Regions from separate parts of the Homo sapiens genome. Here all the other regions are reported to be linked to region 3. The links are microRNA targets in miRTarBase. Many come from high-throughput screens and were not tested one by one. Region 3 holds a microRNA gene; each other region holds the end of a gene's coding sequence.
The links. The annotated mature microRNA hsa-miR-149-3p reads AGGGAGGGACGGGGGCUGUGC and lies in region 3 at 2,076-2,096, shown strand. An mRNA with a match to its seed (bases 2 to 7 or 8) in the 3' UTR can be bound and repressed. Matches are read on the target gene's strand: a 7mer-m8 pairs with bases 2 to 8, a 7mer-A1 pairs with bases 2 to 7 and ends in A, and an 8mer does both.

Region 1 (5,000 bases), not on the chromosome of region 3:
TTGGAAAGATGGTATGACACTGTGATGTATAATAAGATATGCAGTATGTATAGATAGTCTTAGTCCCAGTATTCTGGCACACAGCTCCTAAAACCCTGGGAATCTCCAAAGTGATAAATGGTTTTTTGTATGCTAATGAAATGACAGTGATAAGTGGGTTTCTGCATGCCAGAAGCTCCTGGATAGCTTCAAGATAGGGGCTCCTTGCCCAGGAACTAACCACGTGATTAAAGAATTCCGGCTTTCAGCCCCAACACCAACCTTGAAGGAGAGGAAAGGCTGAAGGTTGAACTTATCACCAGTGACCAATAATTTAATCAATTCTGCCTACATAAGGAAGCCTCTATAAAATCCCAAAAGAAAGGCAGAGGCGGGTGGATCACTTGAGCCCAGGAGTTCAAGACAAGCCCGGGTAACATGATGAGACCCCGTCTCTACGAAAAATACAAAAATTGGCTGGGCGTCATGGCGCACACCTGTTAGTCCCAGTTACTCAGGAGGCGGAGAGGGGAGGATTGCGTGAGCCTGGGAGGCAGAGGTTTCAGTGAGCAGAGATCATGCCACTGCACTCCAGCCTGGGTGACAGAGTGAGAACCTGTCTCAAAAACAAAAACAAAGCCAAAGTCCAAAAGAAAAGGGTTTGGATAGCTTCCAAATTGCTGAACAGGTGGACATGCCTAGAAGGTGGGGCACCCAGAAACGGTGTGGAAGCTCTGGACTTCTGCTGGCCTTTCCATATGCATCTCTTCCATCTGGCTGTTCATCTGTATACTTTATTATATCCTTTATTAATAAACTGGAAAATATAAGTAAAGTGTTTCCCTGGGTTCAGTGATCTGCTCTAAGCAAATTAATCAAACCTGAAGAGGTAGGCATAGAGACCCCGATTTACAGTGGGTTGGTCAAAAGTACAGGTCACAACCTGAAGCTTGTGATTGGCATCGGAAGTGGGAGGCAGTCTTGGAGGATTGAACCATTAAACTGTGGGATCTGACGCTATCTCCAAGTAAATAGTGTTAGAATTGAATTAAATTATAGGACCCCCAGCTGATGTCTGCTGGAGAATTGCTTGGTGTGTGGGAAAAACCCCCATGCATCTGGTCACAGAAGCTTTCTGTGTTATACTGAGTGAATGTAAGAGTAAGAAGAGCACTTTGGGTGAGGTGCAGTGCCTCATGCCTGTAATCCCAGCAATTTGAGAGGCTGAGACGGGCAGATCACTTGAGGCCAGGAGTTCGAGAACAGCCTGGCCAACACGGCGAAACTCTGTCTCTATAAAGAAAGAAAACTAAGAAAAAATTTAAAAAGAAAAGCATTTTGATCTTTTCCCCCATCTCTATTAGATGGTGTGAATGTACCTGGTCTCCAAGCTTTTTGAATTGTGTCTATCAGCAATACAATTTTGAACTGAAATCCCTAACGTAAGAAATGTACACAAAACCACAGAAACTTAAAAGGACGAAATAAAATATATAAATAGATGTTCTAATATTCCCACACCCCTTGGAAGGTCATGTGTACCTGCTGTCCATGCACCCCATTTTGGAGGACACTAATGGAAGAGTAAAGGCAGTGTTGGTATCTGTAGTGTGAAGAGGCCCAGGACTGCTTCAGATGATCTCTACACCTGGAATCTGACCTGAAATAAGCTCTGATCTGAAATCAGATCTGAAATCTGTAATTAAGAATCTGACTTAATTTATGTTTGACTGCTGGTGGCTTTTAAGCCTTATCCCACCCCTCGTCCCCTTATGCCCTACACCTCTGGCAAGCTAAGAAAGCCTGGGTGCTCGCCAGACATGGTGGCCCATGCCTGTAATCCCAGCACTTTGGGAGGCCGAGGCAGGAAGATGACTTGAGCCCAGCCTGGGCAACATAGTGAGACACCATCTCTTTAAAAAAATAAAGCAAGCAAGCCTGGGTGTTTCCTTCTTTGATACCAGTGGGAAATTCAAACCACATGCAAGAAACATCACTCTGGCCCTACTCCCTAACCACCAAAAAACTCCAAGTCAGTCTCCTTCCCTGTTGTCAAATCCTGCTTAGGAGCTGCCCTGCTTTCCCCAGAAAGCTTCATTATGTGAGTAACAACCCTTTCATACTCTGTTGGTGTGTGTGTGGCTTCATCAGTCATTTTTTTTTTCTTTTTGAGACAGGGTCTCACTGTGTTGCCCAGGCTACAGTGCAATGAAACAATCATAGCTCACTGTAGCCTCCAACTTCTGGGCTCAAGTGATTCTCGTGCCTCAGCCTCCTGAGCAGCTGGGACAACAGGTGTGCACAACCATGCCCAGATAATTAAAAAATTTTTTTTCTTTTTTTGCAGAGATGGGGGTCTCTCTCTGTTGCCCAGGCTGGCCTTGAACTCCTGGCCTCAAGTGATCCTCCTGCCTTGGTCTCCCTAAGTACTAGGATTACAGGCGTGAGCCACTGAACTTGGCTATCAGTCTGGACATGTGAACCAAATTTTGAGTGTGGAATGCATCCTGTCTCAGTGCGGGATGGCCACAAAAAAATAGCATCCTCCTTTACAGTCCATCTACTCCTTTCTTTTCATAGCATTTAATACCACCTGACATATTATATATTTATTGTTTGTCTTCCCCACTAGACAGATCCCCAGCTTTAGTAAAGTGTTTGGTATAATCATCCGAGTGGCTACTTTGCTAGCAGTTAAAGGCACTAGTGCTACAGTCGTGAACAAGGCCCTTGCCCACATGAAGTGTACACTCCAGAGAGAAGGGTAGGTGTTCAATACATATTTGTTAAATGATAGACTATTAATATTATTTTGTCTGGAGGTAAGATATTACAAACATATCATAAATTAAATTTTTTATTCATTTTTTTGCATCAAAATAGTGCTTAAAATTGGAATTTATACTCACAAGACATAGCTAACATCCAAAGTAGACAATTAAAAAATATTATTTGAAAATTATGTACTTAGTACTGAAGACTTCCTAAATTTGCACATTAGCTAGATTGCCATTAGCACCATTAGAGAGTTGATCTTTGGCTAATGATTATTCAGGAAAATTTCAACCATTACAATCAGTGAGTATAATTTTATATTTCAGCAACGATAGTGGTCATGTTCAGCAACAGCTTCACTTACAAATTAAAGTAAGCTCACTTCAGTGTTGCACTCTGATGCTGTTTTTTTACCCCTTCTCTTGCAAATAACCAGTGAAATAAAAATTGCTTCTAACTGGCAATCGAAACAAGGGAGGAATTATGGCTAGCCAACTAGTTGCTAATGTTTGTGTTTTTTTTATTTAAGAAACATTTTAAATAATAGAGATGGGGTCTCACCATGGTGCCCAGGCTGGTTTAAACTCCTAGGCTCAGGCAATCCTCCCACTCGGCCTCCCAACATGCTGGGATCACAGGCTTCAGCCACCATGCCCGGACTGCTAATGTTTGTGAAAGGCAAATTGTAAACTTCTATGGTTTAACTTCACCAGAAGGGTAAAGGGCTCCCCACCTGCCACCTTGTTCTATAAAAAAAGTATACTCTGATTACTAGAATGGATTTTTAAAATTCAATTCAAAGATTCAATAACTATCAACATTTCTAAACACTGATTTTTCTTTTTCTCTTTTTCAAATGTTTTTTAATATCCTGCAGGTAATAACACTGATTTTTCTAATACTCAGAAACATCTACTTAGCAGTTGTGATACTAATTTGCAAAATGTAATAATGTTATACAAATATAAGATACTACTAAATACATAGTAGAAATAATTGCATGATTCCTGATATTTATATTCAAGGTATAAACATGACTGATTTCGCTGATACTACAGAATAAAAAAAATAAAGCTGCTATGTAAAAAATTAAAGAATATCTCAATTAGATATTTTTGTTCCCAATCTCTTTCAGACAGATCTATGAAATAATATAGAATATACTATCAATATGTTCTTTCATATGAAGTGAAAAAAATGGGATTTAAGTAGTGAGATAATTTCTATTTTTTACTTTTTTAAAAAAATAGACAGGGTCTTGCTATGTTGCCCAAGCTGGTCTCAAACTCCTGGGCTCCAGTGTGCTTCCTGCCTCAGCCTCCCAAAGTGCTGGGATTATAGGCATGAGCCATTGTGCCTGGCCTGTGGGATCATTTCTATTGGTTTTATATCAGTATTAATTAATAAGTCAATCAATTAATTAACCTTAATTATTTCTTTTTCTAAATAAGTATCAGCTGATTTAATCTCGCCCAATTGAATGCGTCTCTTTTGGTTGATCAATGCGATAGAGAAACTCTGCAGGTAAGAAGTATCCAAGATATTCCACTATATCTGGAGTAGTGTCATAATGGTAGTGTCCACCTTCTCCATGACGACTAAAAAAATGAGTGTGCTCCAGTCGCAAATCAAACCCCTAAGATAACAGACAAACAATATGTTAGTACTCAAATTATTGATTAGAGTTTAAGGGGGAGGGATAACTTTTTACGTTGCAATAGTTTTTATTTTTTAAATAGGTAATACATTCACATGTTCTAAATTCAAAGGGGGCAAAACGATGTATTCAGTAAAATGTATCTTCTTCTCTCTTGCCCTCACCACTCACTCCCCTTCCTAGCAGGTAACCAGTGTAAGCATTTTCTTGTATATCCTTCCATAAATACTTACTTTTATTTTTACTCAAATGTAGTATTTTGTACACACTTTTCTGCATGTAACTTTTTTTCATGTAACAATATAGTTTTGAGATCTTTGTATATGAAATCATAAAAGAGCTTCCTCATTCTTTTATACCTGCATGGTATTCTATTGCGTATGTAACTTCTCAACTGACACTTGCATTATTTCTAATTCTTTTGCTACTACAACAATACTGTAATAATAACCTTTTAACTAGTAATTTTACACAATTATGCATATATTTAAGTATAATATCCTAGGCATGTAATCACTGGATCAAGATATGACCAGGGTAGGCGGAGTAGCTCATGCCTGTAATCCCACCACTTTGGGAGGCTGAGGCG
Region 2 (5,000 bases), not on the chromosome of region 3:
AAGATTAGAGTCACAGATTATGGGCAAGATGCTTAAATGCTGAAGTATAAATTAGACTCTTAAGTATTTTAAATGCTTTAATGAGAGCTTCCCAGGGCCAGCTTGGAGTTGTTTCTGTTTTGTTTCCCTACAGTATTAACCTAACACTTGCTGAGCACTTTCTGTGTATTCAATAAATACATGGTTTAAGGATTTTATATCTCATCTTCCCCAAGCCCCTTTACAGATAGGGAAACTGAAGTCAAGACAGGTTAGGTAGCCTCCTCAGTTTACAAGCTAGTAGACAGCAAAGACTAGACCTCATACTTACTTAGTTATGATCCAGCCTTGGACTAAATTTACCAAAGGTTTTTACAAGTGCCTGCAAAACATAAATCTGTCTGGATGGAGGGAGGCAGAGGGACTGGGTAATGATGAGCCTCTGGGTGCAGGGAGAGGATAGGACTTGATGCTTTCCAGGGGAAATATTTAAAATTTCAGTACTAAGTTAAGTCTGTATCATTTTACTTTTTTTATAGTTTCTTATTTTATGTTGTATGAGATGAAAAGCTTGCACATAAAAGATGATAAGAAATTAGAATTCATCGTTTCTGTTGTACCAAGAAGAACCTTAGTGATCTCTAAAAGAATTGTTGTTAAAATATGGATTCTTCTTTCCTTCTAGTACTCCCCTAGCATGACAATGAGCGTGTGATCCATTACCAAGTCTCCTCATGAAAACCACAGTGAGTCAGCCCTTCACAGAACTACTACGGAAGAAAATTATTCATCACAGTGTACAGTTAAACAAAGGAATCTCAGTCACACCAAACCAACCTTTTTATTTCCTGCTCTCTCCCCTCTTTTGTGAAGAAAGCGGGTCCAAATGTGATTCAAACAACTGTACGGAGTGGCATATTAGAATTGCCCTAAACTGAACTGCAAATAATTATGTGTGTATGTATATGTGTGGGAAAGAGAATGTACTGTATATGTGTATGTTATACAGACATATACACATACATACATTGACCCACAGGACATTGTAAAATATTATCACATGACATCTTAAGTAGAAATAAGTAGGGACTTTTATTCCATCCTTTTTTTCACGTTTACATTTTAATTATTACAAGTTGCTCCTGCCCCCTCCCTGAACTATTTTGTGCTGTGTATATCACTGCTTTATATAAGTTATTTTTTAAGGTGAACTCAGATGTTATGGTTTTGTAAATGTCTGCAATCATGGATAGGAATAAAATCGCTTATTTGAGAGCTTTCATTAAATTGCGTCTGATGCAAGTTATCCTGTGAATCACAAAGTGTACTGTCTCAAAAAATAGAAGAAAATGTGTCTTCGTCTTTATGTTGAATCAAACAATTTCTCAGTTACCTTCAGTGAAAAGTATTTTTTTAATTTTTATTTGAGAAAAACACTTCAAATCAGTAAAAGCTTAACTGGGGCCTCACACAGTATATTTCTGCAATAACTGCTTTAAACGGAGTTCTTGATTTGTTTGTCTTAGATGATACAGAAATCATTAAATAGCCCAAATCATTTAGACCATAGCAATAAAGTGACCGGGGTTGTCATATATTTAGCAACATCTTTTCTCTTTAACATGATGAAGCCCAAAAGTGATAACAAAAGCATTTGCTTGAATTTGTCACTTCTCACCAGGAGTACTAGAGGTAAATTTTTAATAACATACTAATGTGAAATGGTATCTGGTTTTTATTCAGACTTTTTGTGAGCATATTCTTATAGACACTAGAAATAAATACATAGAAGGAGACTTTGAGCACAAGGGAGAAGAGAGTTATTAGCACTCCTGAGGCCTCTGGAATGCTGCTTTTCTATCCAGGTATCTTGCTTGCTACCAGCAGAATTGACTGGTATTGGTTCTCACTGGCCAGGGAGCCTCTGCTCTGTTCCTGGAATATAAGGCTTTTATTCAGGAGCAAATCATTGATAGTAACTTTGCTTTATCTAGCCATTGACTTCAGCAGGCTAAAACTACATTGTGTAACTGACTGTTCAAAAAAGAATAAGTAAATTTTTTTTAATCTAATTCCCTTATGGAAAGCACCTTGCTCTATGGCACTTTCCAGATCTTTTGGGATTTTGTGCTTAATTATACATACATACACCAAAATCACAATAGAAAGATATGAAGACTTTAATTTTAGACTCTGAAAGATAACTGGGTGATCCTTTGTGTTAAAATTGTGATACAAACAACCATTGATAAATACCAACTATGAATCCAAACTCTAGAGACTTTGAAAAGCATTGTTTAATTGCAGGTAAGAGGAATCTTCTCTTTCCTTTAGGCTTATAGTCTCTAAAGTGAAAATTTGGCAGGATATAGTCATGCAGCTCATAATGACATTCCAATCAACCACAGACTGCATATACAGCAGTGGTCCTATAAGATTATAATACCATATTTTTAGCATATCTTTTCTATGCTTAGATACACAAATACCATTGTATTACAGTTGCCTTTGGTATTCAGTACAGTAACATGCTGTACAGGTTTGTAGCCTAGGAGCAATAGTTTATATTATATAGCCTAGGTGTGTAGGAGCCTATACCATCTAGGTTTGTGTAAGTACACTCTATGATGTTCAGACAAGGACAATATTGCCTGACAATGCATTTCTCAGAATGTATACTTATCATTAAGTAACATATGACTGTATGTACTAGTTCCTGATGACTTACTTCTCTCAAATTCATAATGATTTAGTCCTTGTAAAAATAAAGATTTTGCCTGTGCCTAAACAGGGATACTAGGCAGAACTGTTGAGAAAAAAAAGCTGAATTAAATTTATGTTGCAGATTTAAACTATCATAAAATGAGCCTCAGTTAATCACACACAGTATTCAGGTGCCTAGGAGTGCACACCGGAGAACAGCCTCATGCTGTCAAGCTGCAGAAACCTTTCATGCAAATTCAGATGAAAAGGTCTTTACCTCAAGCCAGGGTAACCTGAATGAAGGTGATAGTTTGTCCAGACACCTGACTTTACCAAGAAGAATTTTGACTTTCATATTTTATGACAATCATATAAAAATTGACAGTCCTTTGATTATTAAGCTTAATCTTATAATGCTAGAATTTTCAAATATTTTGTTGACTCTTCTCCATTGTTACCGATCTTGAAATTCTTTTCTTCGCCTTCTGAGAAGGTATTATTTCTTATCACAAAGAATGATGAATATGATTTTATCTACCCTTATTTTGGGGGTAATACGAGAATATGAATTGCATCATGATCCCCATTATTTCTAACCTAAAAGTAAAATTCGTTTTTTTTTTCAAGGCAGAGCAGTCAATTGATTATAAGTATTTATTTCTTTTTTCTTCTTGGAGCCCAGATTAAAAAGAGTTATTTTAGATTTAAAAATTTCCTGAAATAGTTGAAAAATTATTTTTGAGGAGAAAATTGTATCCAAGAAACCCAGAATGTAAGGATACTTGATTTTTATATCCAGATAATTCTTTCATGCACTGAATGGAAGACAGTATATCTGTATATTAATTTTTGTTTAGATTTTGAATCATTTAACCCTTATCCTTTTTTCTTGTAATAAGACTATTTAATGTTTTTCTCTTGTGTTTTCCATCTTTATCAATGCATTCGTGTTGGTCTTGATGTATACTACCTGTTCCTAGTGTTATTTTTACACGTCATCTCACAGTAATAATATCAGCAATTCTTGCTGCATTGAACATATTAAATACACATGTAAAATGAAAAAGTAAGCAGTAGGTAAAATCTTGTTACTCTGCTTTGCATTCTGCCTAACTCACTGCATTTGAAAATACATGTCAAATTCTTTCTGAGGGTATGTATGATTCTTAACTACGTGTCTTACAGCAAAGTTGCCCATGGGAACAAAGGCTGTAGGGTGTCATTGATCTTGTAATACAACACATATTTGATGGGTGAATCTTATTAGCACTCCTTTGAAAATGTTCCAGTATGGAGTCAGTTGCTGATAAAGAGGAAGTTCACAGCTAGGAATCCGAAGTTAAGATTTCTCAATTGCCGCCTGGGCACTCATGCCTGTAATCCCAGCACTTGGGAGGCCAAGGTGGGCAGATCACCTGAGGTCGGGAGTTCAAGACCAGCCTGGCCAACCTGGTGAAACCCCCCCATCTCTACTAAAAATACAAAAATTAGCCAGGTATGGTGGTGGCTGCCTGTAATCCCAGCTACTCAAGAGGCTGAGGCGGGAGAATCACTTGAACCCAGGAGGCGGAGGTTGCAGTGAGCCGAGATTGTGCCACTGCACTCCAGCCTGGGTGACAGAGCAAGACTCCATCTCAAAAATAGAAAAGATTTCTCAATTGCCAAAAAGATTAACAAGTAAATCAATTCTGCTCCCCCAGCCATGAAAAGTGCCCAAAACAGCCCTTTCCCTCCAGAATAAAATAAAACTTCCATTTCTATTTTTATGATTCTCTAAGATATCTGAACTCCATTGCATTTCATAGGGTTATTCAGTTAGCACTTCTGTGGTTTAAAAGACAACAAATGAAAATAAGTAAGTTCAGTTTGGGGCATGAAGAAGTCCCACATCTGTCTATATCTTTTCTTCATCATATTGTCCCTAGGAATGTATAGCAAAGCATTCAGAACTGCTCCTTTGGCTGGGGAAGTTTTCCACCGTCCTTAATACTATGAAGTCTTGATTACTTCTTCCGTGGCTTTATCCTTGCCTCCCTCCCAATCCCTGCATCTTCCAGGAGAAATAAAATACCAACTGAACACTGTTACCTTCTCAGCCCTTACCATTTTCATCTGCATATAGTGTATAGTACTAAGAGTAGTTTTCCCAGGAGAAATAATTGCAATTTTCATTTCTTGATTATCACTGCTAATTCGAAGGAGTGCCACAAATCATAGCCACTTGATTTTGATTTTGGAATGCATTTTAGTGTTTTGACACTGGTTTTCCTTTTTTTTAAATTTTTTTTTCTTTTTTTTTTTTGAGACAGTCTTGCTCT
Region 3 (5,176 bases):
GTTTCGGGTCGCAGTGCGCGGCGGAGGTTCTGCGGCGGCGGAGGGGCTCCTTGGCGACGCTGTCATTTGGGTGAAATGGTGGCGGGGGGGCTTCGGGCAGACGGCAGGGGTGTGGGGAGGGGAGGGAAGCACGATGGGGTGAGTCTGGGGGCCGTGGATGCCGTTGACGAGGAGCTGAGATGCCGTGGCCGGTCCACCTCGCAGGTGGGGCCAAGGCTGCCTCTGGCTCAGACGTCAGGAGCCCAGGCGGACAGGGACTGGCCAGGGGCGCAGGCTTCTTAGAGGATGGGGCAAAAGTGAGGAAAAGATCCTCTGCAGCCTGGGCAGTGGGTGGTCCCCAGGAAACCCCCTGGGTCGTTTGTCCAGTGCACCCTCACCCCAGGAGGCTGCTGGACGTGCCGGAGGATGCCACAGCCACCGGAGCTGGTTGGGGTCCGAGAGCAGATGGGCCAGGGGCTGGGGCAGGCTTCGAGAAGAGGGTTCGGGCTTGGGGAAAGCCTTCGCAGCCATCGGCCAGCCAGGAAGGCCCCGTTGCCGGGTGCAGAGCTGAGTAGAGGGCAGGAGCGGGGAGGCCTAGGCTCTTCCCTTGCGTGTTGGGGGGCTGCGGTGCCTGGAGCTCTGCACACAGCCCTACTCCAGCACCGTGGGAGGCAATGCAGGCTGACTGTCCACGCCAAATTCCGGTACCTTAGGCATTCGAGTCTGTTGACACTGAGTGTCTAGGACGAGGCTGTAAAGGTGGATAAAGCCGGCTTTACAGTCTGCACCTCCTGTGTGAGCCGTGGAAGCTTCTGGAGGGATGGGCGTGGCGTGGCGCCATCATCTCTCTGCATTCTCCTTGGGAGGGCTCCAGAGCCACTGGTCACGGGCAGCTGCCAGGCTGGGTCTGGACAAATGAGGTCTGGGTCCATCATTGGGGATGGGGGCCACTGTCAGGATGGGAGTCTCGCCTAAAGCTTTGGGGTGAAGGTGCTGATGACCAAGAGGAAACTGCGGGGTGGGGACATGTCAGCAGGGGACGAGAATGCATGACCTAAAAGGTATCCAAAGTTAAGGCTGGTGGGGGCTTAGTGAGGAGCAGCAGAGTGGGGTGGTCCAGAACCGTCAGGATCGGGAGGGGGAAGATGGAACGAGACAGCAGCTGCCTACGAGCCAGGGAGCAAGAGCTCTGTGCTTTAACCTGAGGAGCAGGAGCCTGGGAACTGGAGACTCTGGGTTTGAGGTGGGGGATGAATCTGCCATTAAACAAATAATCCCCTTCCCCCCCAAAAAAATCCTCAGAGCACTGGGGAAGGGAAGTGTCCCAGTGACTGAGGGAGGGGAGCGCTGTGGAAGGATGGGTCGGCTACAGCAACTTCAGCCCAGGGATCAGGGAAGAGAGGGTCCAGTCCCTGGCCCAGCGGGGAGCAGGCCCGGTGACCTTGACCTGAGCAGCCCCAGGGCCAGAGGGAGGGGTGGGCCGGAAGGGCCCAGATGCCTCCCTGCACGGGGGGAAGGGGATGGGCTGCCGGGACTCACCCCCTAGGTTGGAAAATGCCTCCCTCTGGGTTGGAGGAGGAGAAAGGCCAGGAAGGAGAGGGAGAGGGACATGGGGAGGGTTCCCTCCTGGCCTGAGGCCTCTCTATCCCCAGGTGTTGAGCTGAGAGAAGTGGTGGGGAGGCCCCTGGGGGTGGGGAGGCCCCTGGGTGGGGAGATTTAAGATGACAGCTGGTCTTGGGCACATTGCTCTCCATTCAGAAAGGCCCCAGCCCCTGGCATTCTTCCAGGAGGGGGCTTGCTTTGCCGCCCTGCAGGGGGACTCTGCAGAGCCGGCCTCTGCCATCTCATGTCCAGGACCACAACCTGTGGCCCCGGCCTGCGCCGGGCCGGAGCTCCGCAGAAGGAAGCCAGCGGGAGGCCTCCTGCCTTTGACTGCCGTGCGTCCAGCCTGCAGCGGGCCTCAGGGGGCCGCCTCGATCCAGCCTGCCCGAGGCTCCCAGGCCTTCGCCCGCCTTGCGTCCAGCCTGCCGGGGGCTCCCAGGCCGGCGCCCGAGCTCTGGCTCCGTGTCTTCACTCCCGTGCTTGTCCGAGGAGGGAGGGAGGGACGGGGGCTGTGCTGGGGCAGCTGGAACAACGCAGGTCGCCGGGCCGGCTGGGCGAGTTGGCCGGGCGGGGCTGAGGGGTCGGCGGGGGAGGCTGAGGCGCGGGGGCCGGTGCGCGGCCGTGAGGGGGTGTGAGAGGTGGCTGACGGCGCCGAGGAGCCCCTCAGAACCTGCAGGTGGGGGGAGCTCCCATATCTTACGGGTGTTTCGGGCCTCACCTCTCCATGCCTCTCGTCAGCCTCTCCCGTCTGCGTGGTGGGGGCTGGGGAGTGGGTCCGCCGGGACCTCGCGAGGGAGGGGCACAGGAGGAGCCGGCGGGGGACGCCACCCACCCTCCTCCCTAGGAGTGCTTGAGCCCTAGTCCTGAGTCTTGGACCAGCTCACTCGGTTCCTGTGGCCCAGCCAGCCTGGCCTGGGTGCCCCGTCACAGCTGAGCCCATCTCAGCTGAGCCCAGGGTGTGTCACCGGGAAGCTCAGCTGGCACCTGCCACCCCCTCCCCCAGGCACGTTTCCCTCCCACTGCCCAGCCCATTACCATCATGTGTCCGGCTGACCTGTGCTCTCCTGGTCTGGGCAGCCTGGATGGGTGCACAGGGCCCCATCACAGCCCACACCCTCGGAGAGACGCCTCCTGAGTCTGCTCAGCCTGGCACAGGCCCCAGGAAAGGACCCGGAGGGGCGGTTCCTGCTCTAAATCCTGCCCCCACGGGGGTGGGACTGGGGCAGAATCCCATCAGTGAATAAAGGCTGCAGAGTGAAGGATGGTCCCTGGCGAGTGTACCTGTGTCCCAGTCTTCTTGCCTGAGGGCGCCTTCCCACCCATGTGAGGAGTGGGGAAGGAGCACCCCTTCTCTACTAGGCCCCAGGGCTCTCAGAGCCGGGCTCTGTCCTCACCCCAGCTGGCTCCCACAAGGCCCTCCTGGCCCCAGACTCTGTTGGACCCCCAACTCCCCCTCCAGCAGGCATCTGGAGGTAAGGAGGGGCGGGGGGCGCAGGTGCACTTGCCATTCCCGCTCTGTCTGCAGCATGGGCACATGTAAGTCCAGGCCCTGGGGAATCCCTGGACCTGCAGCCCCTGCGGAGGACTCCCTCCCCCTCTAGCTCAAGCCAGAGCCCCCTGCATCAGTACATTCCAGAACTCAGACAGGAAAAGAGGGCAAGGAGGGAGCGCTCCAGGATAAGAACCCCTACCTCGGCCCTCCCTCGCTCTCCCAGGCCCCTCTGACAACCTGTCTCCTTGCTGTCATGTCAGCAGGCACAGAGGCTACAGGGGCCAAGCGGCAGCCGCCCAAGCCCGGATTCGGGTTCTCTGTTCCCTTCTCTTGTCTCGGGCTCCTCCCTGAGTGTGTGTACTTAGAGGGTGCGGAAGATCAGCAAACTCAGTCTGACCCAGGCATTCAACCTCTGGGTAGTTACCTAGTCCTGGGTCCCCACCCCAGATGGCCTCTAGTGGGTAAGGGCTTCCTGGACCCCAGGCCTGAGGGGTGACTTCTCTTGCAGTAAGCGGGTAGGGCACTGCCTGCGCTGCTCCAGGCCCTGCCTGCAGTGGGGCTACAGATCCCTGCTCCCACCTCCAGGCAGGGCTGGAGCTGCTGCCAGCTCCCCCAGGACAGCCTCGAGCCAGGTGCCTCTGCCCGGGCTGACCCCGCCCTCGGTCCCGGTCCTGGCTCCCTCTCCTGCCTCTCCTCCCTGGCCTGGCCTTCACTTCCTGCTGACCCTCAGGAGGGCGTAAAAGAATGCAGGACCTGCTGCATTCCAGCCACCCTGGCCCAGGGTCCCAGAACAGGATGAGACAGGCCCCTGAGGCGGCAGTCCTGAGGAAAGTTGCTGGAATTCCTGCTGACAACGCCCCCCCTTGACCCCACCCCTCTGACCAAGCCAGGCTCCTGCTTCCACCTCTCCACTGTGCCTGACCTAGGCCAGCACCAGGAGGGCCTTAGAGGCGGGGGACGAGGCCCAGAAGGAACAGTGTGGCCCCGTCAGTGTGGAGTCCTGAGCTTAGGCAGCCGGAACCACTTGCCCCCTCACTGTATAGCTGGGACGAGACCTCATCCCTGTAAGCCCCGGTTTTCTGGTTAATAAAATGAGGATTGCGGCAGCCTTCATCACAGTGCGATGCACACCCTTTAAAAAATGCAGTTTTTCCTGATGCCACACACCCATTCCAGGTGGGCCCTGAGGTGTGCACAGCAGGGCTGAGAGCTGACTCAAAGCCTGTCCTGTCCCCACTCCCCACAAGGAGGTGAAGCTGTCTCTGATGGCAGTGCCGCTGTCACTGCCTCGGACGCTGGAGCAGAGTAGCTCATGGCAGGCTGCAGAGGAGGGGACTCCACAAGGACACCAGGAGGCACAGGGTGCACCCTGCAGGGCTTGGGGCATGGTCCAATGACCCTTTCATGGGGCCTGCCAGCTGCACCAGAGCACACCTGCCCCCATACCAGACTCGTGCCTGGGGTCCTGCAGGGCCACTGCCTCTGACCAGCCCACTGTTGGTGGGATCTGCCGTCCTTGCAGTGGGAGCTTGGTGCCCCCCAGGGCTGGTGTGGGAAGAGAGGGGGATTGGATTCCTTCCTCCTTCCCCATCCTCAGACATGGGCCCAGGCAAGGGGTGCCTTTCGGGCCTGGGAGCCTTCTCCACACTTGCACACAGGAACCTGAGGCCAGTTCTTTGCTTGCAGCTGCTGGGACAGCAGGCTGGGGGGCAGGACTTGCCCAAGGGGCCTCCTGCCCTGTAGAGGCAGCCGTGCTCTTGTGTCACGTGTGGGAAGCTACGGGACCGAAGCCAGGCCTTTTCCTCCCTCCACACCCCGACCACTTCTGCCTTCACCCAGGGCACCCCCCAGGCTGGCCCACCCCTGAGCTGTGCTCCACCCTGGGTCTGCCATCCTGCCCAGGAGAGCCTGAGGGTGCCCTCCTGGCTCCCAGTGCTGTCCCAGCCCCTCTCCCTCACACTGGCCTTTCCCCACAGGTGAGCACCTGCGGATCTGTCCCCAGGGCTACACCTGCTGCACCAGCGAGATGGAGGAGAACCTGGCCAACCGCAGCCATGCCGAGCTGGAGACCGCGCTCCGGGACAGCAGCCGCGTCCTGCAGGC

Region 1: the mRNA of C11orf54 is a reported target of hsa-miR-149-3p. Seed matches in the 3' UTR shown: 7mer-A1 at 1,831-1,837.
Region 2: the mRNA of SSBP2 is a reported target of hsa-miR-149-3p. Seed matches in the 3' UTR shown: 7mer-m8 at 1,127-1,133 and 8mer at 4,715-4,722.

What each region holds. Positions count from the first base shown.
Region 1 is chr11:93,760,905-93,765,904 of GRCh38, reverse strand. C11orf54 (chromosome 11 open reading frame 54) reads right to left here. Exons shown (of 9, transcript NM_001286069.2): 9 at 1,156-4,390. The coding sequence ends at 4,217. Among named protein-coding and RNA genes, the nearest start is that of MED17, 21 kb to the left of the region's middle.
Region 2 is chr5:81,416,198-81,421,197 of GRCh38, reverse strand. It overlaps SSBP2 (single stranded DNA binding protein 2), which reads left to right. Exons shown (of 17, transcript NM_001256732.3): 17 at 665-5,000. The coding sequence ends at 694. Among named protein-coding and RNA genes, the nearest start is that of ACOT12, 25 kb to the right of the region's middle.
Region 3 is chr2:240,453,981-240,459,156 of GRCh38, forward strand. MIR149 (microRNA 149) reads left to right here and starts at 2,021; the gene lies at 2,021-2,109. It overlaps GPC1 (glypican 1), which reads left to right. Exons shown (of 9, transcript NM_002081.3): 2 at 5,050-5,176. GPC1-AS1 (GPC1 antisense RNA 1) reads right to left here and starts at 2,720. Exons shown (of 3, transcript NR_161169.1): 1 at 2,617-2,720. RefSeq lists enhancers at 1,321-1,971, 3,924-4,575, 4,576-5,176.